4 linked regions of the Homo sapiens genome follow. The protein of the gene in region 4 interacts with the protein of the main gene of each other region in a biochemical or structural test. Each region holds a gene or a part of one and is shown on either strand. Other genes may lie near its edges.

The links.
Region 1: the proteins of ERBIN (region 4) and MPP2 interact in a test that uses a peptide from one of them, tested with the Homo sapiens proteins (one study listed by BioGRID).
Region 2: the proteins of ERBIN (region 4) and MAPK12 interact in a test that uses a peptide from one of them, tested with the Homo sapiens proteins (2 studies listed by BioGRID and IntAct).
Region 3: the proteins of ERBIN (region 4) and SCN4A interact in a test that uses a peptide from one of them, tested with the Homo sapiens proteins (2 studies listed by BioGRID and IntAct).

What each region holds. Positions count from the first base shown.
Region 1 is NC_000017.11:43,904,516-43,912,015, forward strand, and holds the start of MPP2 (MAGUK p55 subfamily member 2), read right to left. Parts: upstream 3,022-7,500; 5' UTR 2,959-3,021; exon of another isoform or gene 2,698-2,958; intron 2,237-2,697; exon of another isoform or gene 2,169-2,236; coding exon of another isoform or gene 2,040-2,168; intron 1,637-2,039; exon of another isoform or gene 1,565-1,636; intron 1,466-1,564; exon of another isoform or gene 853-1,465; intron 1-852. UniProt on the Homo sapiens protein: Postsynaptic MAGUK scaffold protein that links CADM1 cell adhesion molecules to core components of the postsynaptic density. In CA1 pyramidal neurons, required for synaptic KCNN2-containing channel function and long-term potentiation expression.
Region 2 is NC_000022.11:50,258,667-50,265,982, forward strand, and holds the start of MAPK12 (mitogen-activated protein kinase 12), read right to left. Parts: upstream 3,018-7,316; 5' UTR 2,844-3,017; coding exon 2,719-2,843; intron 2,631-2,718; coding exon 2,501-2,630; intron 1-2,500. Other genes in the region: MAPK11 (mitogen-activated protein kinase 11), read right to left, coding at 6,282-6,361, 6,655-6,828, 6,916-6,994. UniProt on the Homo sapiens protein: Serine/threonine kinase which acts as an essential component of the MAP kinase signal transduction pathway.
Region 3 is NC_000017.11:63,962,915-63,969,937, forward strand, and holds part of SCN4A (sodium channel protein type 4 subunit alpha), read right to left. Parts: intron 5,442-7,023; coding exon 5,109-5,441; intron 3,660-5,108; exon of another isoform or gene 3,631-3,659; coding exon 3,567-3,630; intron 3,330-3,566; coding exon 3,188-3,329; intron 1,764-3,187; coding exon 1,554-1,763; intron 1,295-1,553; exon of another isoform or gene 1,170-1,294; intron 912-1,169; coding exon 758-911; intron 401-757; exon of another isoform or gene 351-400; intron 1-350. UniProt on the Homo sapiens protein: Pore-forming subunit of Nav1.4, a voltage-gated sodium (Nav) channel that directly mediates the depolarizing phase of action potentials in excitable membranes.
Region 4 is NC_000005.10:66,076,572-66,083,066, reverse strand, and holds the end of ERBIN (erbin), read right to left. Parts: intron 6,193-6,495; coding exon 6,118-6,192; intron 4,645-6,117; coding exon 4,537-4,644; 3' UTR 521-4,536; downstream 1-520. UniProt on the Homo sapiens protein: Acts as an adapter for the receptor ERBB2, in epithelia. By binding the unphosphorylated 'Tyr-1248' of receptor ERBB2, it may contribute to stabilize this unphosphorylated state.

The sequences.
Region 1 (7,500 bases), on a different chromosome or scaffold from region 4:
TGAGCAGATACAAGGGCAAAGCAATGGGGAAGGGAATAGGAAGAGCCTCCCCTTCAGGACGAGCCAGAAAGGTAGGGGAGAAGGTGCTGCCCAGAAAGTGGGGGTTGGAGAACAACAATGATTCCAACGGTCCTGGGAAGCAGGAAGAGCAGGTATTACTCGCCTATTTCTCTGAGGAGGAGGAGACCAGGGAGGATAAGGGAGGTTAACTGATTTGCCCAAGTTCACAAAGCTAATAAGGAGAGCTAAAATGAAAATCCAGGTTTTATGACTCAAAAATAAGTATATAAATAAAGTGTTTCTTCCTGTTGTATTTTTTGTTTGTTTGTTTTTTGAAGAGGAAACAAGTAGAATTTTTAGAGGGTAAGACTATAATTTGGCTGAGCAAGGTGGCTCACGCCTATAATCCCAGCACTTTAGGAGGCTGAGGCAGGAGAATCACCTGAGCCCAGGAGTTTGAGACCCACCTGGGCAACATGGCGAGACCCCCATCTCTACAAAAAAATTAAAAATTATCCAGGTGTGGTGGTGCATGCCTATGATCCCAGCTACTTGTGGGGCTGAGGCAGGGGGATCTCTTGAGCCCAGGAGGTCGAGGCTACGGTAAGCCATGATTGCGCCACTGCACTCCAGCCTGGGCAACAGAGCAAGAACCTGTCTTAAAAAAAAAAAGTCATTTAAAAAATAATAAAAGAGTCCAGAATTTGAGCCAAAGTAGAAAACATGAGTACTCCTAGACTGCAGGTTCCCTGAGAGTCAGAACCACATTGATTTTATTTGCTTCTGGAACCTAGGCCTACCAAAGCGCCGATGTTCCACATTTATCTGGGGGGCTGACAGAGTGATATCTACCTCTCCACGGCCCCTCTGGCTGGCTCTCTCTCCTCTCTCCCTTTCTTAGCTCAGAGCTGGCACAAGGAGACCAAGTGCTCTGGGCAGAACCAAGCATGGAGTCTACAGCCCCAGTTTCCATTCCAGGGCCTCCCCAGGCTAGGAGTGGCTCCCTCGTTCTCCCAGGAGAGGGCAGGGGGTTACCCCCCACCCTTCTTCCCTTTGCCTTCCTGGGCATGTGCTGCTGGATAAAACCCTAATTCCCAGTTGCCATGACAACAGGAGGCAGTGGCTCACAGCAGGGGTGGGGAGTGGGGGGAAGCATCTGGCAGTGCCCACTTTAGGACTGAATGCCTGCTGAGTCCTGGGGGTGGGGGAACCACGGCAACTCCACCTCCCCCCAAAAGAGGATTCTTCCCAGAGGACTAGTACCTGATTTCAATAAAACCCTCTCTGCTCCCATTCCCTTCTCAGGCCTGAGCTGGTCACCTGAGCTCAGGTGACAGAAATTACAAAAGTGAGGGGGATGGTTCCCTTTCCTCCCAGCTCTGCCGCTGAGGACATGGAATAAAGGTGCTTTCAGGGAGAGGAAGGGCACCCCTATTCAGGCTACACCCAGGCTGGAAGAAATGCCCAGGATCCACTGTGCTGGCCCGTGCCCCTGGTGCCAATCTCTACTCCTAGAGAGCAGGGAGGAGGGATCCCTTCCCTCCCCCTCCCAGGCCTTGATGACCTGGAGCCTTCTCCTGGCTGGCGCTGCTCTCCCTCACAGGGTCAGAGAAGGGACTCCAGAAGTCCTCCTTCCCTAGAGCGTGGAGGGCGGGAAAAGGCAGGGAGGATCCTGTATGAAATCCCTGCGCTCGGAAGTCTTGCCCAGCCTGCCTGGGTTTTCTCCCGGGGAATCGGTTCCCAGAGCATCGGCTGGCTTTGCTCCCCCACGCCCGTCCAAGCCTCTGAGAGGGCGGGGCCTGGCTGTGTCCACAGGAGAACGGCAGTGCCAGGCAAGCTAGCCTGGCTCCGTGCCAAGGTCCTGCACCCAGACATCTGGGAACCTGCACCTCGGCTTCCAAAAGCCTGGGCCCAGATGCCCTCTCAGCTCTGCCTCCGAGATATCCACATCACCCATAGTGTCCGCAGGCGAGCGGACCAGCAGTGAAAGGGAGAGGTTTCTTCCAACCTCCCACCCATCCCTCCATCCATACACATACAAAGAGGTGCGGAGAAGAAAGGTCTGACAAAGGCGCTTTGGAGAGCGAGAGGTCGCGGGGAGGTCTGGACAGAACTGAGGGCCAGAGGATGGGGTCGAAAGGCCAGGCGGACGTGCATGCTTGGACCATCAGATCACCCCTGCCCCAACGGACCCAGCCCTAACACCCTGGGCGCTAGGACCTGGGGGAGGGGGGCGTGTTGTGAGCCATCAAAGAAGGCTCTCTACGTGCGCGCCCGCCGGAGACCAGGGATGAGGTCACTAAATGACTGCCCCGGCCAACCCCCACCCCGTCTTTATCCGCACCGCCCCCCCCTTAATTGACCTAACTTTCTAACCCTAGCTCTTCGCTTCTGGCACCGGTCCCCTCCCAAGTCTCCAGACCCTAACCCTGGCTCCCGACCCGCCCCGCTACAGCTTGGGAAGCGGGAGAAGCAGCGCGCGCCCTTCTGCGGACCCCCTCCCAGGGAAGATTGTGGTGTTAGCTGCCTAGGGGGACCAGGGGGCCACCGGGACCCAGCGCAACCTCTGTCTCGCTCCCCAACCCCCGGAAGCGCTAACAGCACGGTTCTTACGTAATGCCGGGCTTCTAAGTACCCCCAACCCGCACAGCCCCCGGGGAGGCCGCGCAGATACCGGGGCCCCTCACAGCTCACCACCTTGGTGCCTGAAGCCACTTTGGAGCCCCTACCGCAGGGGCGGGGACCAGTGTCAATGGGCAGCGGGGCTTGGTTCTCCCAACCAGCACCCCAGAAAGAGGGCCCAGGGGCGGGGGCGGGTGGACAGGGAGGGAACGGGCCTGGGTGAAAGGGGCCTGTGGAGTTTAAACCCAGTGAATAGGGTCCTAAGTGCCGTGTCAGGACGAAAAGAAGGCGGAGGTCTTGGGATAGGAGCTGGCCCGGGGGCCGGGGGACGCCTACCTGCGCCCCGGGAAGCCCCTAGCTCCGGGCGGCTCCAGCGCAGCCGGGCGCTCAGCGTTTATTGCTTGTCAATCGCTAGCCCGGCTCTTAAAGCGGCAAGGCCTCTCCGCGAGGGGGCGGAGGTCCGGAGGAGAGGGGAGGTGAGGAGAACGCGGAGGCCGGCACAACTCGGAGGAAGTAGTCTTTCCCAGCAGCTGGTACGGGGGCAGCCAGGTAGTGGTTTGGGAGACACCGCACAGACCACGACGCCCTGCTGGAGTCCCACTGGGAAGGGTTAGGGAGGCAGGACTGGTACCAGTACCCGCTGGTGCCCCTCGGCTCCCAAGGATCCCTTAAAGGGGCGATGGTAAAAGTGCCTAATGAGACCGGCTTGATTACTCCGCCCACCCATCTTGGCTTAGACCGGCGTTCTAGTTCCAGGCGTGCCTCACTTTTCCTCGTTATCCTGCTTCCATATTGAGAAAAAGAATAGGAGGACTTCAGAGAGACTCCCAGGAAGCAGGATACCAGCCCCAGAAGGCCTCGGGATCAGGGGCAGCTTTTTAAGGACTCAGAGGGTGGATATCCGGATTCCAGACTTTCCAGAAATTTTGCAAAAAAGAGGAAATGTCTTCCTGAAAGGATTCGAGAGCCTCTTTTAGGTCTAGGTGAGGGAGGCCTGGTCCATTTTCCTGCCTATGGAATAAAGAAGTAACTGGCTAGCCTTCCTCAGAGTCCCAGCCCAAAAAGTAAATAAAGGGTTAAACCCACTGGCCCGCCTTCGCCCAGCCTCCGGCTCCACCCCACATCTGCTAGTAAAAGATGCTGGGCCTCCAAATACGGGAGGCTCTGTGCAGTGCGACTAGCATTTGGGGCCAGCTACGCTACTTCTCCGACCTCGGCGTTCAGCCACCCCGTCCAGTTGCCCTGAACAAAATGTGAGAGTCATCCCTTTTCCTTGCTAACTGGATTCCTAAGATCATAAATGGACTGCATCTTTGGCCGGGCGCGGTGGCTCACTCCCATAATCCCAACACTTTGGGAGTCGGAGGCGGGAGCATCGGTTGAGCCTAGGAGTTCGAGACTAGCCCAAGCAACATAGTGAAACCCCATCGCTACAAAAAATAAAATAAACAAAATTAGCTGGGCGTGGTAGCGCGCGCCTGTAGTCCCAGCTACTTGGGAAGCTGAGGCTGCAGTGAGCCGAGATTGCAACACCGCACTCCAGCCTGGGCAACAGAGTGAGACCCTGTCTCAAAAGAAACAAAAAGAAAAGAAATGGATTACATTCTGGAAACTTGCTTGGAAATCTCAGAAATGGGAATCTATCCCGAAAGCAGGGGACTGGTCCCTGGGTTCCAAGACTCAGCTCTCCCCTGAGTTCCAAGGGTATAAGTTTGGATATAGGAAAAAGCCACAGAGGCGGCCGAACTGCTGAAAACCACATTGTTTAGGTGACCCAGGCTTTTACTGAGAGAAGAAAGCCATCGAACCCAGATAGCTTTGACAGGAATTGCAGGCTTTGGTCTCTAAACAAAGAGGGTTCTTGGAGCGCATTGCTTGCAGCTCTTTCCTCTATCTGCAAGCTAGAAAATCCTTCTTCTTCTTCTTCTTTTTTATTTTTATTTTTTGAGACGGAGTTTCGCTCTTGTTGCCCAGGCTGGGGTGCAATGGCATGATCTCGGCTCGTCGCAACCTCTGCCTCCCGGGTTCAAGCAATTCTCCTGCCTCAGCTTCCCGAGTAGCTGGGATTACAGGTATGCGCCACCATGCCTGGCTAATTTTGTATTTTTAGTAGAGACAGGGTTTCTCCATGTTGGTCAGGCTGGTCTCGAACTCCTGACCTCAGGTGATCTGCCCACCTCAGCCTCCCAAAGTGCTGGGATTGCAGGCATGAGCCACTGCACCCGGCCTAGAAAATCCTTATAATTGAATTCAGGAAGAGTTCCCCTTTCCATTATAAAGGCTACCCTCCACTGTCACCTGTCCACCTCTGGGCTGGAAATCACTCAGCTATTTGTATTTTGGAAGAGGAAGGATCTTGAATCTCTACAAGATATTAATTACTTCTTAATCAAGCAATTATTACCTCCATAGCGACCCACATCAAATCTTCCATTCCATTTAGGATCCTCAGGACAGTCTGGGATCTCAGATTCTGGCCCACCTGGGGAGGTGGAGCCCAACTCATTATTCTTAGCGGCTGCCCCACTGCATTCGTCGGTCAACAAGTATCTCTCTAATAAAGGCCTTGCAGAATGCCAGCCTCTCACATCTGTTCAGGACCTTACAATTGACAAATTGTTTCATTCTCACAACAGCCTTGTGCAGTTACAGAATGAGAAGAAACATTTATTGATGCAGAATAGGATGCTCCTCTTCTGTGCCAGGCAAGGTACCACTTACTGTGATACTGAGATAAGGGCCCTAACCTCCTAGAGTTCACAGTCTGGGGTTGAAGTCGGAAAGGAGTGTGTTACATAGATACAAAAAGCGCTTCTTGGTAGCACAGCTGAATGCCATAATAAAGGTGCAGTGTGTCCTAAGCTGTTCCCCAAAGGAATAGAGCTGCTAATGGTTGGCAATGGAGTAGCTGGGAAGGGAAGCAGGTTTGAAGGTCGGCAATGCATCCCCTAGTAGTTAAGGGCTGCCCCCTACCTCAAGAGGGGAATGAGTCCTCCTTCTCTGAGGTTTGTAATTAGCTCTGCCTTCCTCCCTGCCTCAGCCTCAGAGGTCATAAAGGTGCAGGTAGTATATCTCCTTCCCCCAAAATCAAGGTATTCCTATGGTGGTGTTCAGCCCAGAGTTTTGGGAGTCAAGGCACAGAGAAAAATAAAACTCAAAAGTGTTACAAATTTCCAGCAGGTAAGGCTTTGCACTGAGTGATGGTGCACTTCCTATAATGACCAGCAGGGGCCACCAACAGCTATTCCCAGTTTATCTACACCCAGCCTCTGAGGTGCTTCGCCTCCACACCTGCGACTGGCCAGTGCCTAGTTCTGGAAACCTTATTTATGGACTATACTTAAAAAAAAAAAAAAAAAAAAAAAAAAAAACTTGGGCGAGGTGCCATGGCTCACACCTGTAATCCCAACACTTTGGAAGGCCGAGGTGGGCAGATCATGTGAGGTCGGGAGTTCAAGACCAGCCTGGCCAATATGATGAAACCCTGTCTCTACTAAAAATACAAAAATTAGCTGGGAGTGGTTCCGGGCGCCTGTAATCCCAGCTACTTGGGAGGCTGAGGCAGGAGAATCGCTTGAAGCCGGGAGGCAGAGGTTGCAGTGAGCCATGATTGCGCCACTGCACTCCAGCCTGGGCGACAGAGTGAGACTCCGTATTTAAAAAAAAAAAAATTAGAGCCTTCAATGGACTATATAAAATTATATAAATATTTGCCTATAAACTATATTTGTGTTATTCAACTAATTAGTATGCATATTAGAAATCACACACATAGGGATGAATTTTTATTTTCATTTTATTTATAAATAAATAAACATATTTTGAGACAGGGTCTTACTCTGTTGCCCAGGCTGGAATGCAGTAGCATGATCATAGCTCACTGCAGGCTGGACCTCCCAGGCTCAAGCCATCCTCCTGCCTCAGCCTCCAGAGTAGCTGGGACCACAGCTGCATGCCACCACACCTGGAGAATTTTTTTTTTAATTTTTTGTAGAGATAGAGTCTTGCCATGTTGCCCAGGCTGGCCTTAAACTCCTGGGCTCAAGTGATCCACTTGCCTCAGCCTCCTAACGTGCTGAGATTACAGGTGTGAGTCACTGCACCAGGCCAGGATTAATTTTTTAACTATAAATAGAAATTCCAATTTTGTCTTCCCATACCCAAAAGGATCATCTTGCACACCCCTAGGTGCACACCCACTTTGGAAACCACTGTTCTAAAGGAAAAGCTATGCCGTCCTCCCTAGTCCCCGCCTCAACAGGGCATCCAGACAGGAATGGATCCAGACAGCTTTGCCTTCCCACCAGGACTAAACCAAGGCCTCCGTGAAGGACCAAGTTTCCTGGCCTCTTGCTCATCCCACAACCTCAAGACAGAAATTGAAGCCTCCTCCGCCACTACCACTACCATTACCACCAGCCTGGCCTGCGTTCATGTCAGATTGCCTTTCTAGAGGGCAGAGCCCCAAAACCTCTCTTGTAAGCAGCATCTGTTCCTCCACCTGGCCCAACAATTGCACTTTCCCTTGCCTCCTGATTTTAGTCTGCCCACCTCCCTATTGGGGTGGGAAGTTCTGGAACCAGACAATTTTGTGTTGAAATCCTGGCTCAGCCACTTCATGTGTGTGTCTTAGGCCAGTTAAATAACCTTGCCAAGCCTCAATTTCCTCATCTGTACAATAGGGATAACAACTTTGGGAGAGGACAGAGGTAGAGTGGCTGCCATGTGCCAGGCACACAGAAGGTGTTCTATAAACGCAGTTCCCTTCTGGGAGTAGGTCTAGGCAGGTTCTAGCTAGGTGCCAGCGGGCCGTGGGTGGTTAGTCCTTATCTCTGGCTGTCTGCTGTGTCCTGGCTGACTTCAGGTTCTCCTGCGGAA
Region 2 (7,316 bases), on a different chromosome or scaffold from region 4:
GGGACAGCGCTATGGAAAGAGGCCAGGCCTCTGCTGGTGAGGCCCAGGCGGACAGCACCGTGACCCACCAGACCTGGTCCCCTCAGCACCCCTGGTTGGGGAGATAGACAGTAGACAGGTCATGTGACAACTGCCGCCTCAGCATTTTGGGGTGACGGTCCCAGGGAGGCCTGGAGTTTTGCACAGCCAAGGGTGGAGGGGCAGGTAGACATGTGGGCTGCGGGACACCTGGCAGAGGGCACACACAGAGTGGCCGAGGCAGGAGGGAGCACACTTGGATAGTTTGAAGAATACAGGGAGGGAGGCCAGGTGGCGGAGGCCCAGGCCAGGGAGGGGCTGAGGAGAGGCCAGAGGGAGCCGGCAGGGCAGCACACACCAGGTGGAAGTTTGGCTTTGATCCCAAGAGACGGGGACGATTTAAATGGGGACGTGAGGCTAAATGCGTCCTCCTGGCCGTGGTGTAGGAACCGGCCAGAGTGAGGTAAGAATGGACACAAGCTGGAAGGACAGCTCCGCCGGAGCCACGTGGGCCAGAGCCATGGGCAAGAATGTGGAGGGAGGAGGAGAGGGAACAGAGGGGGTGTCCAGGGGGCAGCGGGGACTGTGGACATGAGAGCTGGAGGGTGCCCGGGAGAGTGCTTTAGCAGAAGACGGAGAGCAGGGTCCTGTGGGCTAGGGGCCACAGGACTTGGCCTGGCCTCTGTGGTATGGGGGCTGGCCTGGAGAGGGAGGCGGCCTGGCAGGACTGAGGCCTGTGGCAGAGCCTCCTCCCCCGCTGAGCAAGGCACGTGGCCTCACAGAGCTTCAGTCTCCCAGGAAGATGGGGTTCCAGGGAAAGAGCCTCAGCTGCAGGCCAGGAGCCCAGGGGGTGGGCCCACAGGCACAGCGGAGATCCCAGCACAGCGGGGCGGTGGCTAAAGAAAAGCCCCGGTGGAGCCCGGCGCGGTGGCTCACGCCTGTAACCCCAGCACTTTGGGAAGCCGAGGCGAGCAGATCACTTGAGGTCAGGGGTTCGAGACCAGTCTGCCCAACATAGTGAAACCTCATCTCAACTAAAAATACAAAAAATTAGCCAGGCGTGGTGGCGCGCGCCTGTAATCCCAGCTACTGAGGAGGCTGAAGCAGGAGAATCGCCTGAACCCAGGACGCGAAGGTTGCAGTGAGCTGAGATCGTGCCATTGCACTCCAGCCTGGGCAACAAGAGCGAAACTCGGTCTCAAAAGAAAAAAAAAGAAAAAAAGCCCCAGAGCGCTTGGCTGGATGGGGCAAGGCACGGGTGGGTGAGTGGGTGGGTGGGAGCAGGGGGCCGTGGGGAAGGCTGCAGTCCTGGGGCAAGGCCTTGGTGTGATGGGCGGGTGGTGGGGGGGTGCGGTGCCGGCGAAGTGGGGGCAGGGCTGGGTGTGACGGGGTGTCGAGGTGCGGGCAGGGCTGGTGTCCACTGCAAATGGATTTCACAGGGCCCAGGGTAGTGAGCTGGGGGTCAGGGTGGGCATGGGAAGCCTCAGAGAAAAAGACCCATCCAAGGGGCTGAGGGAGTAGCGGTGGCCAGGAACCGGGGGACGGGGCACTTTGCTGGTGGACGGGGCACTTTGCTGGTGGACGCAGGGACTCGTTCTCCCAAGGCACCGGTGGCTCAGATGACCCAGGAGGGTCCAGAGCATCTCACCCTGTAGGTAGGGTCCGGGTGCCCAGACCACCAGCCCTCAGGCTGGGCCCAGACCAGGGGGAGGGCAGGAGTGACGTGGGGGGCAGTGGACAAGTGGGACTGTATCCAGAAACCAGAGCACCCCTGGCAGAGAGATCGGGTTCTTAGCAGCCAGCCACCGCCATGGGAGAGGCCCAGGGCAGCTGTACGTGGCATCTCACTGGAAGGACTGGAAAGGATGGGCCCCCACAACGCACAGGAGGGTGTCTGTGAGGCGGCCACCACGCCCAGTGCTCCTCAAACAGCAGCTCCCTAAACCCTTCACCCCCAGGGGCTCCTGAGGGTTCAACACACTCCCTGCGTTCTGGCGCCCCCCTCCTCCCCCTCCACCACCGGGTCGGAAGACTCGGGAGATGGACAGCAGCAGAGTGGGCTCCACAGAGGGGCTGGAAAGGGGATGGGGAAGAGGGAAGGTGCCCCTTCCAGGAAAATCCTCCCGCCGGGAGCATGCTCTCACCGCGGGCTTCCTGGCTGGGGGCAAGGCTTGGCGTGAGACCTGGAGGATCCCCTGGGCCTGGCCAAGTCGTGTTCCCTGACCAGGGCCTGGCTGAGGCGCCGAGTCAAGGGGCTGAGTCCTTCCCGGGGCTGGCGGAGGATGGGGAACGGCCCTTGGGGGAGTCGTCTCCCAAGGAGAGACAGGCCTTGCTCTCCTTCTCCCCTGGGGACCCACGGCCCGACCCCCGCCCGGCCCCACAGCAGGCTGCCTGGAGGAGGGGTTGCCGGGTGGGGGAACCCAGCCCAGCTGAACCAAGCCGAGGCCGCGGCGCCTTCCCGGAGCGGGGCCGCGCGACTCACGTTCTCGTGGCGCATGTGCTTGAGCAGGCGCAGCTCGCGGTAGGCGCGCTTGGCGAACAGCTCGGACTGGAAAGGCCGATACAGCTTCTTGATGGCCACCTTAGCGCCGGTGCGGCCGTCCACGGCCGAGCTGCGGGGCGGACCGCTTAGCGGGAAGGCCGGGCACCCCGCGCAGGCCCCGCCCGCCCCGCCGGCCGCCCCGCCCGGCCCGCGCTCACCACACCGCGCCGTAGGCGCCCGAGCCCACGGGCTGCAGGTCCCGGTACACGGCGCGCACCTCCCAGGCCGTCTTGGTCACCTCCTGGCGGTAAAAGCCACTGCGGGCGGGCGGCGGAGAGCTCATGGCAGGCCCGGGAGCTGCCCACCCCGCAGAGCCTGCGGGCGGTGCCCCCACGACCGGGGACGGGGCTCCCTCGGCGCGCGCCTCGGGCCGGCTCCGCGCCGCTCGTCCGCTCGCCCGCCCGCCCGCCGGCCGCTGGGGCGCTCCCGCTCCCGGCCCTTCCCTCAGGGATGTCCCAGGTGCCGACCCCGGCCCGACCCCGACCCAGGCTGCGCACGGCCCCTCCCCCGCCCGGGGACCAACCGGCCCGCGGGCGGCGCGCACGTGACGCCCTCGCCCGCCCTCCGGCCCCTCCGGAAACCCGAGGCGGCCGCCGCCGGGGGAGGGCCGGAGCCTGGGGAGGGCCGGAGCCTGGGGGGAAGCGCAGGGGGAGGGGAGCGCCGCCCCGCAGCTTCGTCCCCATAAAGGGCCGGACGCGGCGCGGAGATACCTCTGCCAGCCTCTCCCCTTTGGCTGAACTTCCCCGCCCTGGGGGGGTCTCAGCAGGAGCCCCCCCCCCCCCCCCCCGCCCGCTCCAGTCCTAACTCCCCACGGCTCCAGGGCGCAGGGCCCATCCTTGACAGCCTGAGCGCTGACTTCTATGGCAGCCGCAAGTCGGGCTGAGCCCTGTGTTCCCGGGGTCAACTTCGCAGGCCACCCCCAAGGATGCCCTACCACTGAGCCTGATCCATCCGTCCCCCAACAAGGGGTCCATCTGCACCTGTCCTGCCTGTATCCCTCTTTCTACACGGAGGGGTCTGTCCCCCAAACTCCTCAGGCTGCATCCCCAACCCCACTCCTGTGGCCACTGACCCCGGGCCTCTCAGTCCCATAGGTCCCCGTGGGCCCTTTTGGACCCCCAGCTCCTCCCCCTGCTCCCCCCATCTGTGGGGTGCCTGCTCCAAGCATTGCAAGTACTGGTGTCTCTGCCCATCCCACCCCTGCCTGTCCTGTCCTGCAAAACCCAGGCTGAGAGTGGCTGCACTCTCTCCAGCAGGGATGGGGACCTGCTGGGGCCCTCCGCCTGACCCCTCTGTGTGGGCATTGTCCTCCCATAGGTCTGGCCCCATCCTGGACCAGATGCTCCTGAGGGCAAAGCCCCACCCTGACACCCCTTCACCAGCCCAGGAACCTGGATCTCAGAAGGGATGTTGGGGCACCCCAGGAGCCCACTGGGCTGGTGGGTAACAGGATCCCTAGGGCCTTCTGCCCCGCCCTCCTGCCATGAATCAGCAGCTCAGCCGCTCAAGGGTGGTAGTAGCTTTACACCTGGGCTTGGGCCGTGCTCCACGGCATTCACCAGCTCGTGACCAGTGAGCGGGGCAGCCCAGGGCCACCCAAACCACAGCTGCCTGTGGCCCATACCCTTTGTGCCCTGGGCTGCCTGTGGCACTCCATCCACCTCTTCCAGGAAGCCCAGCTTCCACGCTGTCCCCCTTACTCCCCGTGGTGGGGCTCAGGGGTCCAGCAGGCCCTGCACGGACCAGGCTTCTGAGGTGGGGCTGTGTCACCATTCTCCTCCCACCCCCAACCGCCAACACTGGACTTCCCCCGGGATTGACCACTACACTGACCAGGCCCCAGGAGGCCCCCAACTCCCAGACGGTTTCCACCCCTACCCAAGACCCAAGCAAGGGCACAGACTGTCCCTGGTCCTTAGAGACACTGCCTGACCCCAAATGGCCTGGACCCTCCCCCACACATAAGCTGCAGCGCGTAGTGGGAACGGGACCAGCGTGCACATTCCCTGGGTTAAAGTGGCCTCTTTTTCCTTCACCAGGAGGGAAAGGAAAGCTATTTTCCCTACCCTGCCCAGCCCCCACCCAGGGATGGGCAGACCCTTGCTCCTTGAGACACCCAACTTCTCCCCAGCCAGCTTCCCTGAACACTGAGGGGTAGGCGGGGGTGGTGTCTGGATCTTGGCCCAAAGCCAAGCCTGCCCAGTACATCCCCACAGGGCAGCTGGGGTCACCATCTGGGTGGCTGTCACACCCTGTGCCCTCAAAGTCTGCCCATCAGCCATGTCTTCCCCTGGTCCCCCTGGGCTCTCAGACCCTCCAGGGAGCAGGGAGGGTGCCAGAAGATGGCCGCTGGTCTGACTGGGGGCCTGAGGGATCTGGCCAGCTGGAGGTGAGTGATGCAGGATGACCCAGACACTCCCCCCACGCCCAGCAGCAGGGATGGTGGGGGCACCCGGGCCTGGAGTAGCCTTTGGATACAAGCCAAGTGAGAGAGAACCCCCTTTATTGTGCACCCCTGGTGCAGGCACTTGACACCCAGGCTTCCCTGGGCCCCTCGAGGCAAGAGGTCACCCCCTTTCCAGGGCAGAGCCACACCCCCAACTCAGCTCTGGGCAGGGTCCCGTCTCCGAGGTTACTGGATCAGCTCCATCCTGGGACAAGGAAAGAGGACTGACCCACAGACCAGAGCACCTCAGATCTCCGGCTGCAGGGCCACAACGGTGGGCAGAGGTAGAGAGCGGGCCAGGGTGCAGGGCAGAAGTGTCCGAGTCCAAGTCCACATCCAGGTGTGCTGCCTGCCCTAGCGTCCTCAAGGCCAAACCACCCACCCACCCACCCCCAGCCTCAGGAAGCTGCTGTGGGTCCCACATCCAAGGAGAAAGCCCCTGCCCATGCTCATGTGGTTGCCCTTTGGCCCACTGGAGCCGCCAGTCTGAAACACCCCTCAAGGCATCAGGAACCGAGGAGAGGGAAGGCAACAGCACACCCACCCCGGCTCCAGCTTCTTGCCAGATATGGCTGCTGGCCTTGGGCGCCCACAGATTCACACGCACCACATCACATGTGCCCTGACATATGAACACGGGGAGTGCACGCTCATCCACACGTGCCCACACACACCCACGGGTGAACACAAGACTCCAGGCAGCTTTTCTCATTTGACACCTGGTGGTTGTCCCTGCCCAGCCTGGTGGCACACTGGCTCTGCCTCTCCTCTTAGACCTGTGGGTCTCAGCAGTGACCAAGACAGCCCCCTACCTCCAGGCTGAGCAGCTCTAACCACTGAGACCTCTCCCTTTGAGTCTCCCGGGGTCCCGGCCCCAGCGCGTCCTCCAGAAAGCCCTGGGACAGAAGAGAGCCCAAGGCTGACACTCCCTTGGGTCGGCCTGGGACAGACAGGGGAACTCCGCAGGGGAACCCCTTTGGCATCTAGGACCCCACAGTCAGGTCCCAGTGGAGAGTGCAGTAGCCAGAAGAGGACAGGAGGACCAAGGTAGGCCCAGGGACACTTGTGCCCAGACTCCTACACATGGCAAGCACATGTACACACATGTTTGTGCATGCATACATGCGTGTAGATTCTCCTGAAGGCGAGGGGTCCTAGGCCAGAAGTCTGTGACCATAGGAGTGTGGGAGGTGCCTCTCGAGGAAACCAGGCCAGCTGTGGAAGGGTGCAGGCCCAAGCCCCTCCACAGGCTCTCAGGGGCTGCTGGGCAGCACCTCACTGCTCAATCTCCAGGCTGCCAGGTGGCTTCGGTGGCTCTGGGGGCTTGAAGCTGAGGACTTCCTGGTAAGTGAGCTCTAGGAGGTGAAGGGAAAGGGTGAGCTTGTGCCTCCCACAGCCCGGCCCCTCACCTGCTTGTCTGGCACCTGCCACCCAGCCCAGGCCCACCACCCTGTGACAGCAGCCTCAGCACAGTCTGGGAGCCAGAACCTGCCCTGTGTCACTCCTCCGCCCCGCTCCCAGCCTGTGCTGGACACCTGAACGCCCTTCCACACCTGACCAGTCTGGAGAGGAACTGGGGCATTTCCTGCCTCTGGGGAAATGGAGCCCGCAGGCCCCTGGACCCACCCCCAGCCACTGCCATGCTCACCCTTCCACTCCTCCAGCGTGCGCTCCTTGGCCTCAACGCTCTCATCATATGGCTCGGCCTCTGGCTCATCCTCGGGGTCGTGGTACTGGCTGAAGTAGGCGTGGGCCAGTGCCTCAGCTGCACTGACCCTCTGGTCACTGTCCAGCACCAGCATCCTTCCAAGGAGGTCTATGGCTGCAGGGAAGCCAGTGGTGGGGAGGGGGGTCAGCTGTACATCCAGGGCCAGATATGGAGCCCAGTCTAGCCCAGGGCAGTCCTCACCCAGGGGGTTGGCTCCACGGAAGATGCTGCTCAGGTCCTTCTGGGGCATGGGGGGCAGGGACTGGATATATGTCCGGGCCTGGGGGCACACAAGAACACCTGGGGAGGCTGCTCACTCTCTGCCTCCCTGGCCCCAAACTGGGGCTTCTCTTGGCAAGCCCCCAGACTCATTCACTCCAACAGGCCAGGACAAGGGCACAGGCAGACCAGTGACCCCCTCCATATAGGATCTGGTGGTTCTAGCTCCTCAGTTGGCCCCTAATGCCTGCAGGAGCTGGGTCCAAGTACACTCCCTCCACCCAGCCCACCCCCACTGCCCTGGCCAGGCACTGCTTGCTGGGGTCCCCCAGCCCACCCCCACTGCCCTGGCCAGGCACTGCTTGCTGGGCCCCCAGCCCACC
Region 3 (7,023 bases), on a different chromosome or scaffold from region 4:
CTCTAGAGATCTGCAAAGTCCTGCAGGGCCCCCAACTCCCTGGCACAAGGCAAGCCGACCTGGGGAGGGAACCACATCTCTGTGTGTCAGAATTCCTTTTCTCTATTGTCCCTTTTTCCTGTGCTTCCTCCTTCCCTCCTGCCTCCCTACTTCCCTCCCTCTCATCCATCCATCCATCCATCCATCCGTCCGTCCATCCATCTGTCCATCCATCTGTCGTGTCGTGTCTATTCACCCTCTCTCATCATGACATCCTTATTCTTCTGAGATTCAGCATGTGGCACAGGGATTGGGGAGTCTGTCACTCTGTTTGGGCAGAATTTGACTTTTGGCCTTTAACTTTTACCCAGAGAACACTTGAGGAGCAGGATGTCCAGTTTCCGGAACATTGGGCCTTCTGGTTAGTATTATTAGCCTGTGCTTCCCATTGGGCAGTCCCCAAGGCCCTCCCGGAAGCCCCCAGTTCCCATAGCAGCCTGGCCTTGCAGCTAGAACTGGGCCAGGTTAAGACAGGACTATATTTGTGACAGCCAGAAATGGCTGTGATAAATATAGTATAAATATAGCCATTTCTTCTATGCCAATATTAAGTTACTGTCCTGAAGCTGGTCCAGCCAGGCCCCACCCTGACCTCAGGGGCCTGAATGGGTAGAGGGGGCACAGGGCACTCACCTTCCATGGCATCCCTATCCTCCTGAATCCAGTCCAGCCAGGCTCCACCCCTACCTAAGTGGGCACGGGGGCACAAGGCACTCACCTTCCATGGCGTCGGAGATGCCGCTGTCTCCGCTGCTGCTCTGCCTCGGGGCTCCCTTCTCCCCTTGCGATGTGTCCAGGCTGCCATTGCAGTCTTTGCCATGGGCTGGGTCCCCATCTGCCTCCCCACCTTCCAGAGCTTGGGCGGCCTTGGCCTGTAGACCAGCAAGAGTGACTGGCAGGAAGTCCAGCTCTGAGCCAGAGGGATGGACTAATTGACCCTCAGAGCTTCTTCCAGAGTCCTTCAGGGTGGCAGCCCCTCTTCCTGGCCTGTGTCAAACTTAGTGCAGGTGGGGGAGGGACCAACCTCCATGGTGGTGGGGGTGACAGGGTAGGGACCAAAGTGACTAAAGACCCTCTGCCCTGAAGACCCTTGACTCTGATGCCCTGACTAACCCTCCACTTGTTGACAGAATGAGAAACTGGTCAGCCGCTCCCTGTGGCCTCATCAGGACCTGCCCTTCCCTCAGTATGGACCTATCCACTACCCAGAAAGCATCACAAAATCAGAAATATTTGAGCTGGAAGAATACTTCAGGTTTAGCTACTCCAGATTCCTTGTTATAGACAGGGAAACTGAGGCACAGAGCAGAGAAATGCTTTTTCTACTGCTTGGATCCCTCCATCCCCCTGCCACCAGCAAAGCTCCCAGCCCAGGGCCTTCTGCTCCTTCTGCCTCAAAACCCCTACCCCTGTACCCTCCCTCACCCTCGGCCCCCCAGGGAGAAGCCAGTGGCAGCCCCGGCTGAGGGCAGGTAGAACCCTGGGTCCTCTATCTCCTTTCCCTGAGTCCAGACCTTCTCCAGCTCCTCCTGGTGCTTTTTGAACTTCTCAAGCATCTGCTGAAACTCCTCCTCTTTCTCCTTATCCTCGGCCAGGGTGGCCTCATTCTGCTCGGCATATGCCATGGCCACCACGGCCAGGATCAGATTGATGAGGTAGAAAGAGCCCAGGAAGATGATGACCACGAAGAAGATCATGTAGGTCTTGCCAGCTGCTCGAAGGGTCTGGGAGTGGAGGGAGAGGGAGTGGAGGGGTCCCATGACGTCCACCTCCTTTGACCCAGTGCCCCTTTCCATACATCCATTGCCCGCATGGGTAAGCAGAGCCCCTCCCTCACAGAGCCTGGGGGACTGATGGCCGTCATTGGCATGCTGAGCCATGTTCTGGGGAACTTCAAAATATCTACTTGGGACTCAAACGTTTCTGGTCTCCTGGCTCAGAGGAGGACCGAAGCCAGGCATCCTGTTATCAGAGAGCCAGGATAGAAAATTGGTGAACATGGGTTTGGGGTCAGCTTGAATTCTAGCTTTGCCACAGTGCCTGGCACCTAGTAAGAACTCAACAAATAGTAGCTATTATTATTATTTAATCAATTTATTTATTTATTTTTAGACGTAGTCTCACTCTGTTGCCCAGGCTGGAGTGCAGCGGTGTGATCTCGGCTCACTGCAACCTCCACCTCCCAGGTTGAAGTGATTCTCCTTCCTCAGTCTCCTGAGTAGCTGGGATTACAGGTGTTTGCCACCAAACCTGGCTAATTTTTGTATTTTTTGTAGAGATGGGTTTCGCCATGCTGGCCAGGCTGGTCTCAAACTTCTGACCTCAAGTGATCTGCCTGCCTCGGCCTCCCATAGTGCTAGGATTATAGGCATGAGCCACTGCACCCAGCCAGTAGCTGTTATTATTTTTGTTATTGTTATCAACACCATCAATGTTAGAAACATCACATGGCATCAGAAGGCACTGTCACTCCAGGCTCAGCCTGCCTTCCCTGCAAACAGTAGAAGGCAAATAAAGTATGGGCAACATCGAATTTCTGTCTTTCTTTTTTTTCAGACGGAGTCTCGCTCTGTCGCCCAGGCTGGAGTGCAATGGCGTGGTCTCGGCTCACTGCCACCTCCGCCTCCCGGGTTCAAGCAATTCTCCCTCCTCAGCCTCCTGAGTAGCTGGGAATATAGGCCCGTGCCACCATACCCGGCTAATTTTTGTATTTTTAGTAGAGATGGGGTTTCACTATGTTGGCCAGGCTGGTCTCGAACTCCTGACCTCGTGATCCGCCCACCTCTGCCTCCCAAAGTGCTGGGATTTCAGGCGTGAGCCACCGCGCCCGGCAGGCAGCATTGGATTTCTAAGCTGCCCTACTGGCTATCATGAGGCCTAGGGGGTCCTGGGCTTGTGCCTATGCTAGGTCCAGACCTTGGCTCTGAAAGCAAAGGTGTGGAAAGAATTAAAGCTGTGGCTTGGCTCGGGGCAGGTGTCTAGTTTCAGAGAGCACAAGCTCCTATAAGGGCACTGCGGGAGTCCATGAGGAGATGGCCCAGTTCGGGGGTTGGCCATCCTGTGGTAGGCCCCATCAGGCCCTGAAGAGGCTGCAGGGATGGAGGGGGAGTGGCTGTAGGGTTGGGGGGCAGGGTGGGGGCAGCTGTACCAGCTGGAAGAGGTTCTCCCAATAGTCCTGTGTCATGAGGCGGAAGAGAGCCAAGAAGGCCCAGCTGAAGGTGTCATAGCTGGTGTAGCCATAGTTGGGGTTCCGCCCGGTCTTGATGCACTCATAACCCTCAGGGCAGTGCCTAGGAATAGGACAGGGGGCTGGGTTTAGGGTGGGAGGAGCACTCCAGCTGGGGGCAGATAGGGACCCCAAGGGAAAAATTCCGTCAGTTCTGCCTGTGTCCCCCAAACAGAAAAGTATTCCATCCATGCCCACAGGTTTCCCTGCACTCCCATGCCCCCCAGGTCCTCATCTCTAATCAGCTCCCACCTTCCAAGACCCCTGGGGTGCCTTTTCTGCATCCCTTAGCATCACTCACCCAGCATCACTGCTGTTCCCACAGAGCAGGGCATCGTTGGAGCCCTCCAGGAAGTAGAAGTTCCCTTTGGGAGTCAGAGGCCACAAAGGAGGCAAGTCACCCACATGGACACAGTGTGAGCACCTGCGCCCATTGCACACCTGTGGACAGGTCTGCGCGTACCACATAAACCAAACGGATGTTCCCTGGCTGCCTCTTCCCCGTCCTTTAAGGACAGCTCCAAGTTCCAAGGTCTCTGGGTAGGGACTCGGCAGGGAGCTCAGCTTGAGCCCTGTCAGCCCAGTGCCCAGTGTGGACGAAAAGTCATGACGCAGCAGTGGCACAGAGACGGAACGTGTACGTGTGTGCATGGGGTTATTGTGTACCTATGTAGGGCCCCTGAGTGAAGGGTGAGTGGGGGCTGGAATCCAGGTGCCAGGGTGAGAAGGGTTACCTTTTCCTAATTTGCAAGAAGGCGCTATGTAGACTAACAGTGGCTGTGTGAGAATGTGTGTGTTTCTGGCATGTGTGCCTGTGAAGATGCATATGTGAATAGGATGTGGGTGTGTGGGTGGGTGATGGTGACCCTGCCAGGATGTGAGCATGTGAAAATGTGGTGTGATGAAGGAGGACAGGGGGTGCACAGGTTAGGGAGTAGGAACTATAGACTCTTGCTTTGCATAGTGAGAGCTTTAGGATTTTTTTTTTTTTAGACTGAGTTTCACTCTTGTTGCCCAGGCTAGAGTGTAATGGCATGATCTCGGTTCACTGCAACCTCTGTCTGCCAGGTTCAAGCGATTCTCCTGCCTCAGCCTCTGGAGTAGCTGGGATTACAGGCATGCGTCACCACGCCCGGCTAATTTTTGTATTTTTGGTAGAGACGGGGTTTCACCACGTTGGTCAGGCTGGTCTGGAACTCCTGACCTCAGGTGATCTGCCTGCCTCGCCCTCCCAAAGTGCTGGGATTACAGGCGTGAGCCACCGTGCCTGGCACTTTAGGGTTTTTAAAACAGTTTGCCATTTGTTGCTGCAGTAACCCTTTGAGGAAGGTATTGTTATCTTGATTTTATAGGTGAGGATTCGGAGGGCTGGGGAGATCAAGTGACTAGTCAGAGGTGACACAGGCTGCCAAGTGCTAGCTTTAAGCTCAGGTCCTCGCCATACTATTTGTCTCATAAGAAGTGGAGACAGGGCGGGGAGCGGTGGCTCACGCCTGTAATCCCAGCACTTTAGGAGGCCGAGGTGGGAAGATCACATGAGGTCAGGAGTTCGAGACCAGCCTGGCCAACATGATGTAACCCTATCTTTACTAAAAATACAAAAATTAATTGGGCCTGGTGGCACATGCCTGTAATCCTAGCTACTCGGGAGGCTGAGGCAGGAGAATCGCTTGAAGCCGGGAGGCGGAGGTTGTAGTGAGCTGAGATGGCACCTTTGCACTCCAGCCTGGGTGACAAGAGTGAGACTCCATCTCAAAAAAAAAAAAAAAGAAAATGTGGAGTCAGAGGCTACCCTAGGGACTGGGACAGGATCCCCCTTGCCCGTCACCCTCCCCATTCTTACCTTCATCACTGATGTAGGCGTCCCAATCAAAGGTATCGTTGGTGGCCCAGCTTGCATGGCTGTTCCACGTGTCGTTGGCATACCATGAGTCATTGCCGTACCACATCTCATTGCCATACCATGTGTCATTGCCGTACCACGTGTCATTGCTGTACCACGTGGTGTTGGTGTCGTTGAACGGCGGGGGCCAGCGCACACACTTCTGCCTCAGGTTTCCCATGAAGAGCTGCAGTCCTACCAGCGCAAAGACGCTCAGGCAGAAGACAGTGAGGATCATCACATCCGACAGCTTTTTCACCGACTGGATCAGGGCCCCCACGATCGTCTTCAGCCCTGACCGCAGAGAGGGCAAGGATATTGGCAGGGGGCAGGGCAGGGTGATAACAGAGCCCCCGCGGCCCCCACCGCCAAGCTTTTTCCTACTCCATCTTCAAGGCTTGACTTACTGAGCACCACTACTTCCCCGAAGCCTTCTGAAATTAACTCCACCCTTCTCTGTTCACATCCTCAATCTGGAGCCCTCAAATGGCCACAGACGCTCAGCCACTAGGAGAATGAACTATAAAGACCTGATGGGCTGTTGCCTGACCTATAGAGCAAACAAAGGCATACAGCAGAGCTTAATACATGTCACTAAGTTAGCGCTGTCAAAGTGTGTTCAACAGAACGCTAATCTCCCATGCTGTGCCCTTAAAAAGGGGGCGTTGATAATGTTTGGGAAAAGCTGCGTTCTAGATTCTGCTCTTGGAGAGTCATTATGTAGTTGATCCTATCAAAGGCTTTGAAAAGTCCTGCAGAAATAAACAAAAACTTTATTTGTATTTATGTATTTATTTAGAGAGAGTCTCATTCTGTCACCCAGGCTGGAATGCAGTGGCGTGATCTTGGCTCACTGCAACCTCTGCCTCCTGGGTTCAAGTGATTCTCCTGCCTCAGCCTCCCAAGTAGCTGGGATTACAGGTGCATGCCACCACACCCAGCTCATTTTTTTGGTACTTTTAGTAGGGATGAGGTTTCGCTATGTTGGACAGGCTGGTCTCGAACTCCTGGCCTCAAGTAATCAGCCTGCCTCAGCCTCCCAAAATGCTGGGATTACAGGCATGAGCCACCTCACCTGGCCTATTAAACAAAAACTTTAATCCCACGTATCCTTAACATATTTGACCACAGAACCCTTTTCCTTAAAATGCCTAGTAGCACCCGAGGAACAGCAGAAGCTCTAGACTGAACTTGAAACATCATTATATTCTTTAGACAGACAAAGGCATAAACGATGCTGAAATAATCCCAGGGGCAGGTTCCCATCACCTGTGGAAGAGCCGTAACTTCTTCCTTGGGCCTAATCGTAGTGCCTCTTGCGTTAATATGACTTCATTTCCTTTTCTTATCCTGATATGGAAAACAAATGCTCGGCAGCCTCCTTATAAAAGCCCTCCTGCGCCCCGAGGATGCTGGCAGCTGGCACAGAGGAAAGGCAATGCCGTCTTGGCTCAGTGGCCAATGTACAGTGTGGAATTTGGGAAGTGCTTCCTCTCCTGGGTCTCACACCTTCCTCGGCTGCAGTCAGAGGGCTTTAGACTAGAAGATAGCTCAGGTACTTTCTTTCTTACTTTCTTTTCTTTTCTTTTCTTTTTTTTTTGAGATAGAGTCTCGCTCTGTCGCCCAGGCTGGAGTGCAGTGGTGTGATCTCGGCTCACTGCAACTTCTGCCTCCTCGATTCAAGTGATTCTCCTGCTCAGCCTCCCAGGTAGCTGGGATTACAGGCACATGCCACCACGCCCAGCTAATTTTTGTATTTTGAGTAGAGACGGGGTTTCACCACGTTGGCCAGGCTGGTCTCAGAGTCCTGACCCCAAGTGATTCACCTGTCTCGGCCTCCCAAAGTGCTGGGATTACAGGTATGGGCCACCACACC
Region 4 (6,495 bases):
AAAAAAAAAAAAAAAAAATTATGGATCCAGTGTACTCCCTTTTTTTTTTTACAAAACTGGTAATATTATTATTACATAACACTCTTGCCTATCATAGTATTAATAATCTTTTCTGTCCTTTGTAGGTATGTGGACAGGATGAGGAGATTGAAGCATGCTCCATTTTGCTACCTTGAATAATTTATCTGCAAACAATTCCTCTTGTTCTTGGGAGAATGAATGTTCCTTTGAGGGATGCTGCAGTGAAGGATGATCCAAATATGAGATGTTTAGTGTGCATTCTGGACAGGCATTACTTCTCAGAGTATTAGGTTCTTCTTTTCATGAAGATGAGGAAACTTAAAATCATCTAAAATCCATGCTCTCTGCTCATGCTTTAATTTTTTAACAATTTGTATTAGTTTTTCTTTTCTAACAAGGAAAAGTTTGAAAGAGCAACTGAAAGAAGATCCTTCTAAAGCTATACCTTGGAGGAACACAATTTGATTAGGTTTAAGGAAAGTCAGTATTTATAGGCTTGTTTTCATGAAAAATAAGCTTTATTGAATCCCTTGAGGGGAAAAGCATAATTTTACAGCTTAGGTTTCTTCCTTCCCCAGTGATACTAGTTTCTCAAATTTTATCCTGAAATAAAACCGTGGGCCGATTGAGAAGCTAGATGGGCAGATGCGTGACAGATCACCATTGTCCCTGGTTGTTACATTAGAAAAGAAAGTTGTAACAGAAGGATTCTTTTTGTCAGCCTCTCTCCTAAAGATTCTATAGAAAGGTTCAGGAGTATTTTGATTGTTCTCTACAATAAAACCTAGGTTGTTCTCTTAAAAAAAATTTCAGGTGTTTTCTCTAAACATTCTCTAACATTTTAGGCTTTCTCAGCTTAGGATGAGCTTCTCAGGTGGTTGGATATTAGGACTGTACGTTATAGCTGACCACAGATTCTAATCTTGAAAAACTGCTTCATGAGACTGTAGAAGATAGCATTCTCTTAAGAACTTTCCAAAACTAAATGACTACTTACTATCCCCTGGGCTTATGAATTCTGTAAAGAATTAGCAGCTTTAGGTAGAATATGGTCAACTTTTTCTGAAGGTCCTTATTTAGAAACAAAGGAATACCCAAAGGTCTGAGTTGGCTGCCTGTCTAGATTACTTTTTCTTTTTTTTTTTTAAAGAGGCATCTTGTTCACTTGTTCATCAATTAATGCTCTTGAATCATAATTTTTATTTCAATGTCCATTTCATAAGAAACCTATTCACTGAACATTAAAACAGAAGGCTGTAAGAATGCAACAGACTGAGTGAAAAAAATACCCTTCCAAATAGATTTCACACGTCAATCTCCATCAGAGAAACATTTCCCATCTTAATGCCTCCCTTTAGAAGTAAATAATAATAATTTGAGATAAACTACACTTCTTCCACACCTAGATATACAGGGTTTTAATGCTAAAAAAAAATTGTATATTTTTCATGAGAATTTCTCTAACCCCGAATTTTGTAAATAAACCAGTTTAAACATCATTAGTTTGTTATCTATCCTCTATGTGTTACTTCATCTAGATATATACAAAAATTTGGAATGAATAAATGTTGGTTGATAAAAATATTACATAGCTGCTAATGGGATTTTTTAAGTGCAGCAAATTAATACTTAAAAGTTTGGTTCTGCTTATGGCAAGTTTTGTGTTTAAAAGAATTAAGTGTATATATATATATCTTCATATCCAGTCCAAAGAGGTCAGAAGAATATTTACAAAATAAATATGTAGGGAATTTTAGAATTTCATTGATTCAGATGAAGTGATAATTCCTTAATTAGCATAAATCTTTAGATTGTATCAACTATTGTATGCCGTATAAATTACTCTGATCAGTATTATTTTTTTACTGGTTAGAGTAAGAAATTACTCTTAAAGACAAAATCACTAAAAGACAGTTGTGGTTTTGATGAATTGCTATATAATACTTACTAAAGTTAGTTATGGGTATAGGCCTTAACTACAATTTACTCAACAATATATAAACTAAAAATGTCTTCTCCACTTCCTCAAAAAATTTAATTATTTTATTCAAATTTTGAAACTTTATTACAGCAAAATTCTAATTCAAAGTCCTTGTCATTTAATTTTAGTTTTCCAATACTTTCAAAGAAAACTTGGCTATAATACTCCTCTTGGTAAAGTTTCTTACGCAACTTTATGTGTTGCAAGAATACTATAAAATTTTAACTAACTAGAGTAGGATAAAATGCCAGTGCATATAACATCTGTTGCATTTATAATACTTCAATGTAATGTGCAGACAATGAAGTTAAGGTTTGCTGAAGATCCATTGTTCCGTGAGGCTTAATTCCTTTTCCAAAATTATAATTGGTATATGTGGTTCAAGGTAAAGTAGTTGAAAACTTCACAATTATACTTATTAAATATATTTCTGATTAAAAGTAGAATGTGCCTGTGAAAATCTGAAATCAATAAAAGAAATGTTAGCTATTTTAGAATGCCAAAATTAATATTTAAAAACAAACTAAGAATAAAGGGAACACCGAGACTTGTCTTAAAGAAGCTGTTTGTCATTCTTTTTTTTTTTAGATTACAACACACATACAATAAGTGAATTTTATCAAAATACAGCACATTTCTTCTACTATATCCATAAAAATCAATTCCTATGTAAATAGTACTGAAAATCAACTAAAATGAGTTAAAATTTACAAAGAGTTGTTAAAGGGTTTCAATCAAAATTATTAAAACTATACAGTACAATAACCAATTGATAACATCTTGAAAGAAGTGCAATATTTGAGTTCACATATTTTTAAAAGTGCTGCCTACTTACTCTGACTAGCAAGAATGGAAAGTGAGTCCAACTCACTTTTGCAAAAATAATGTTGGTTGGTGTTTTAAGCTAGTCTTATAAAAGTCTTAATTAAAATCAAGGTTGATAAACAAAGCATAACAGATTAAAAATTCCCAAATTGCATTTCTTAGTAAATAAAAATGAAGTGCAATAACCAAATATTGCTCTAATGAAAGGTTCCAGACTAGCCTCAACTAAACAGTTATTGGTCTTCTATGGCACTTTTTTCTGGTCCAAATAACCATGCATTAATCCTTACCATTACATGTTACTCAAATTTTATTTGATTACATAGAACAAAAACAAATAAAATTAATGGTCTGGATAAACAAAATTAATAAACCTCTATCATCAAATATTTGTTACAGTAACTAGGAACAAAGAAAGGCAGTTGGTGGTAAAACACTATTACACTGATACACATAGAAACCCTTTAAAGACTCTGGAAGTGTTGAGTTCACATTTAATGTTACCTGTAGAAACAGCCCTTTATTTGAACACCTTTACACACTGGCAGGCCTCAAGGACCCATCCCTTTGCTCTATAACTCTCCACAGCAATTCTCTATCACTGTGCCAGTTTCACAAAGCTTGCTTTGGTTTCCTAGCTCCAAGTGTACTGTTTCCTTTTACTTTACCAAGGCAATGCAAGGCCAAACAAAAATCAAAGAGGCTTTCCTAAACCTTCGTAACATTTTGTGTTACAGGCAACACAATCTTAAAACTGGCCATTTTTGTTTCATTTGCTGCTTAAAATAAAAATTATAAATTAGATTTAAATGGAGCACTAATTATAAAACAGATTGCAAGTACCACCATTTGAAAAAAAAAAAAAAATCAGTGGATTTCCATAACACAGAAAATGCATGGACATGCATCTACAGTAGAGTTAAAAATTTCCTGTGACTAAAAAATTAAAAACTGAATCACCAGTAGCAAATGTATAGTCAATGGCTATGACAAGAACAGATCCTGCCGAGCTCATAAATGCAATTATTGTCTTTTTTGCTTTATAAAAAAGACATTACATATTTTATTGCATTATTCTCCTAATAAAAACATACTACCACGTAGCTCTCCCCATCCCCATTCTTTGCTTCCAGATTTTTATAGAAAATAACTGTTTTAGTCTGGCCTTGGAAAGTGAACCCACCAGCACCACCTTCACCTACTCACTCTTCAATTCAATATGCACATAGCAAAAGCCAACACTTCAAATCTCTTGCCCACATCAAAAAAAGTAGTTTCAGGAGAAAAACATTAATACCAGTTGAATAAAAATAAGGGCATAAAAGCTATGAGAGAGATAGCTCTGCCATCTGTCTCTGGGCTAAAATCAAGGCTAACTATTGCCTTGCACACAGTTCAGTCATGTATATGAAATCCAAAAATAAACCTACAATCTATACAAAAACAACACAGGTTTGTTTTTGTAGCCTTGATTGCTATGTTTAAAAACCTAACAAGTTTTATATGGTATGAATTCAACAGTCTCCTTTATATTCTGTACAGTGGTTCTTTCCCTCTAACCACAAGTTCCATTATTTCATTAATGTACAAATTTGAACATAATTTTTTGAGTTCTTCTTTATATATAAAAATAGTCAAAATATTAATTTCCCCTGTAAGTATCTTCCAATAAATCTTGCTGTCTTCCCCGCTTTTTTTGTCCACAGTGCTTATGAGGAAACTTCTCGTACAATGATGAGTTCAACTGTATTCTGGAAAGTTTTTAGCAAGGACACTGCTTGTCCATGTTCAATATTTATAAAACTGTAGCCATTAGCCTAGAAGAGGAAAAATGCTTTTAGGAAAAACATTTTATAGTTATTTATTTGCATTTCTGCCAAGTAGTTCACAAACTTGGAAGAAAATAAGAATCACTTTGGCAACTTAAAATAACATACAGATTCACAGGCCCTACCCAAACCAAGGAATAAAGTCTCTGAAGATGGGGTCTAAAAATGTGTATTTTGTCCAACTTCTCAGCCAATTCTTATGTAGCAGCCCAATGTTAGAAATCACTTACTTAAGAAATAATGTCAGACATGGTGTCGTATAATGCTAATGTGTATCTGAGGTGACCAAACTGTAGCGTAGCAGGGGGCAAGGGCTACTCTTCCCATTGTCTTGGAGCCATCACATCAAGACCACCATATTTCTTACAATTAAGCTTAATATTTACTGAGGTTCTACTGTGTACCAAACACACAATTCTAAGGGTGTAATATGAATTAGATCCTTTGATTCTCATAATGCTCAAAAAAGATTCTTTCACTATCTTATTTTAGAGAAGAGAAAGCCCAGGCATGGAGAGGCAAAGTAACTTGCTCAGTCACAAATTGAAACCCAAATGGTTCAGAAAAATAAATGTGTATAACTGTATGAGTGAGTGTGACTGTGTGTGTGTGTGTATGTGTGTGTGTGTGTGTGTGTGTGTGTGTGTGTGTAGAGGGAGGGAGGGAGAAAAAGAGAAGAAAGAGGAGAATAAATGATAAAGACAATGTAGCAAATTATGAACGACTGGTGACCAATTGATGTAATACTGGTGTTTGTTGTAGTATTTTTGTGGCTTTTTTCTAAGCTTAAAATTATTCAAAAAAAATTTTTTTTAATTAGTTTTATTTTTAGAAAGTGTTGGGACCAGAATTTAAACTCAGGCAGTCTGGCTTTCAGAATCTGTACTTTCAGCTATTAGACATTAATGTCTCTCTCTCCCTTTTTTTTTGGTTTGAGGATTATTTTTTAAGTTCTTTAGTTCTCAGCTAAGAACGGTGACAGTAGGGGTAGAAAATGAGAGCTATACTTGTGTCCTAGGTTTGTCTTCCTTCTAAGACTGTAAGTGTTTAGGTAAAATGAGTAGCTGAATGAACAAAGAAAAGGAGGGGACAGGAAAAAATGAGTTTCGCAGATTTAAAATTTTTCTTCTCCATTTCTGAAAGGACAATAGCCCACATCCAAGAAGTGGTACTCTAATCCCCCTCAAATTAGTAAAAATTAACATTCCTGAGCTTAAACAAAATCCTATGATGTATCAAACTTTTTTTTTTTTTTTTTTTGAGACAGAGTCTCGCTCTGTCGCCCAGGCTGGAGTACAGTGGCGCGATCTCGGCTCGCTGCAAGTGCCGCCTCCCGGGTTCACGCCATTCTCCTGCCTCAGCCTCCCACCCACAATTTTCAAAGTTAAAGTGAAAACATTTTAAACTGTGAAAACATTAGAGTGTTATAAAATGAAAAAAAAAAAGATTTATTTTAATTACCTGAATAATTTTATCACCTGGCTGCAGTAATTTTGATGCTGGTCCTTCAGGTTGTACCCTTGTTACAAATATACCCTTTAACAACAAAAAAAATTATTTAACTAAAAACAGTATGTATAAATAACAGAGTACCAAGGAGCAATTTTTCCTCCACACCATGCAAATATTTGAATCATGGTACAAGTTTTCTCCCTGACTTCTCTGAGTAATACTGTAACAAACTAGTTATTTTTACCTCTAGTAATTCTGACTTTAGTGATTTCTCTTGAGAGTAATAAAATTACTTTTATAGGTGTGTGAAAAAGCAATAAGAAAGTTAAAAATCATTTCATTATATCATAAACATTCATAGTTTTTGGTTAAATTGTTTTAACTTGA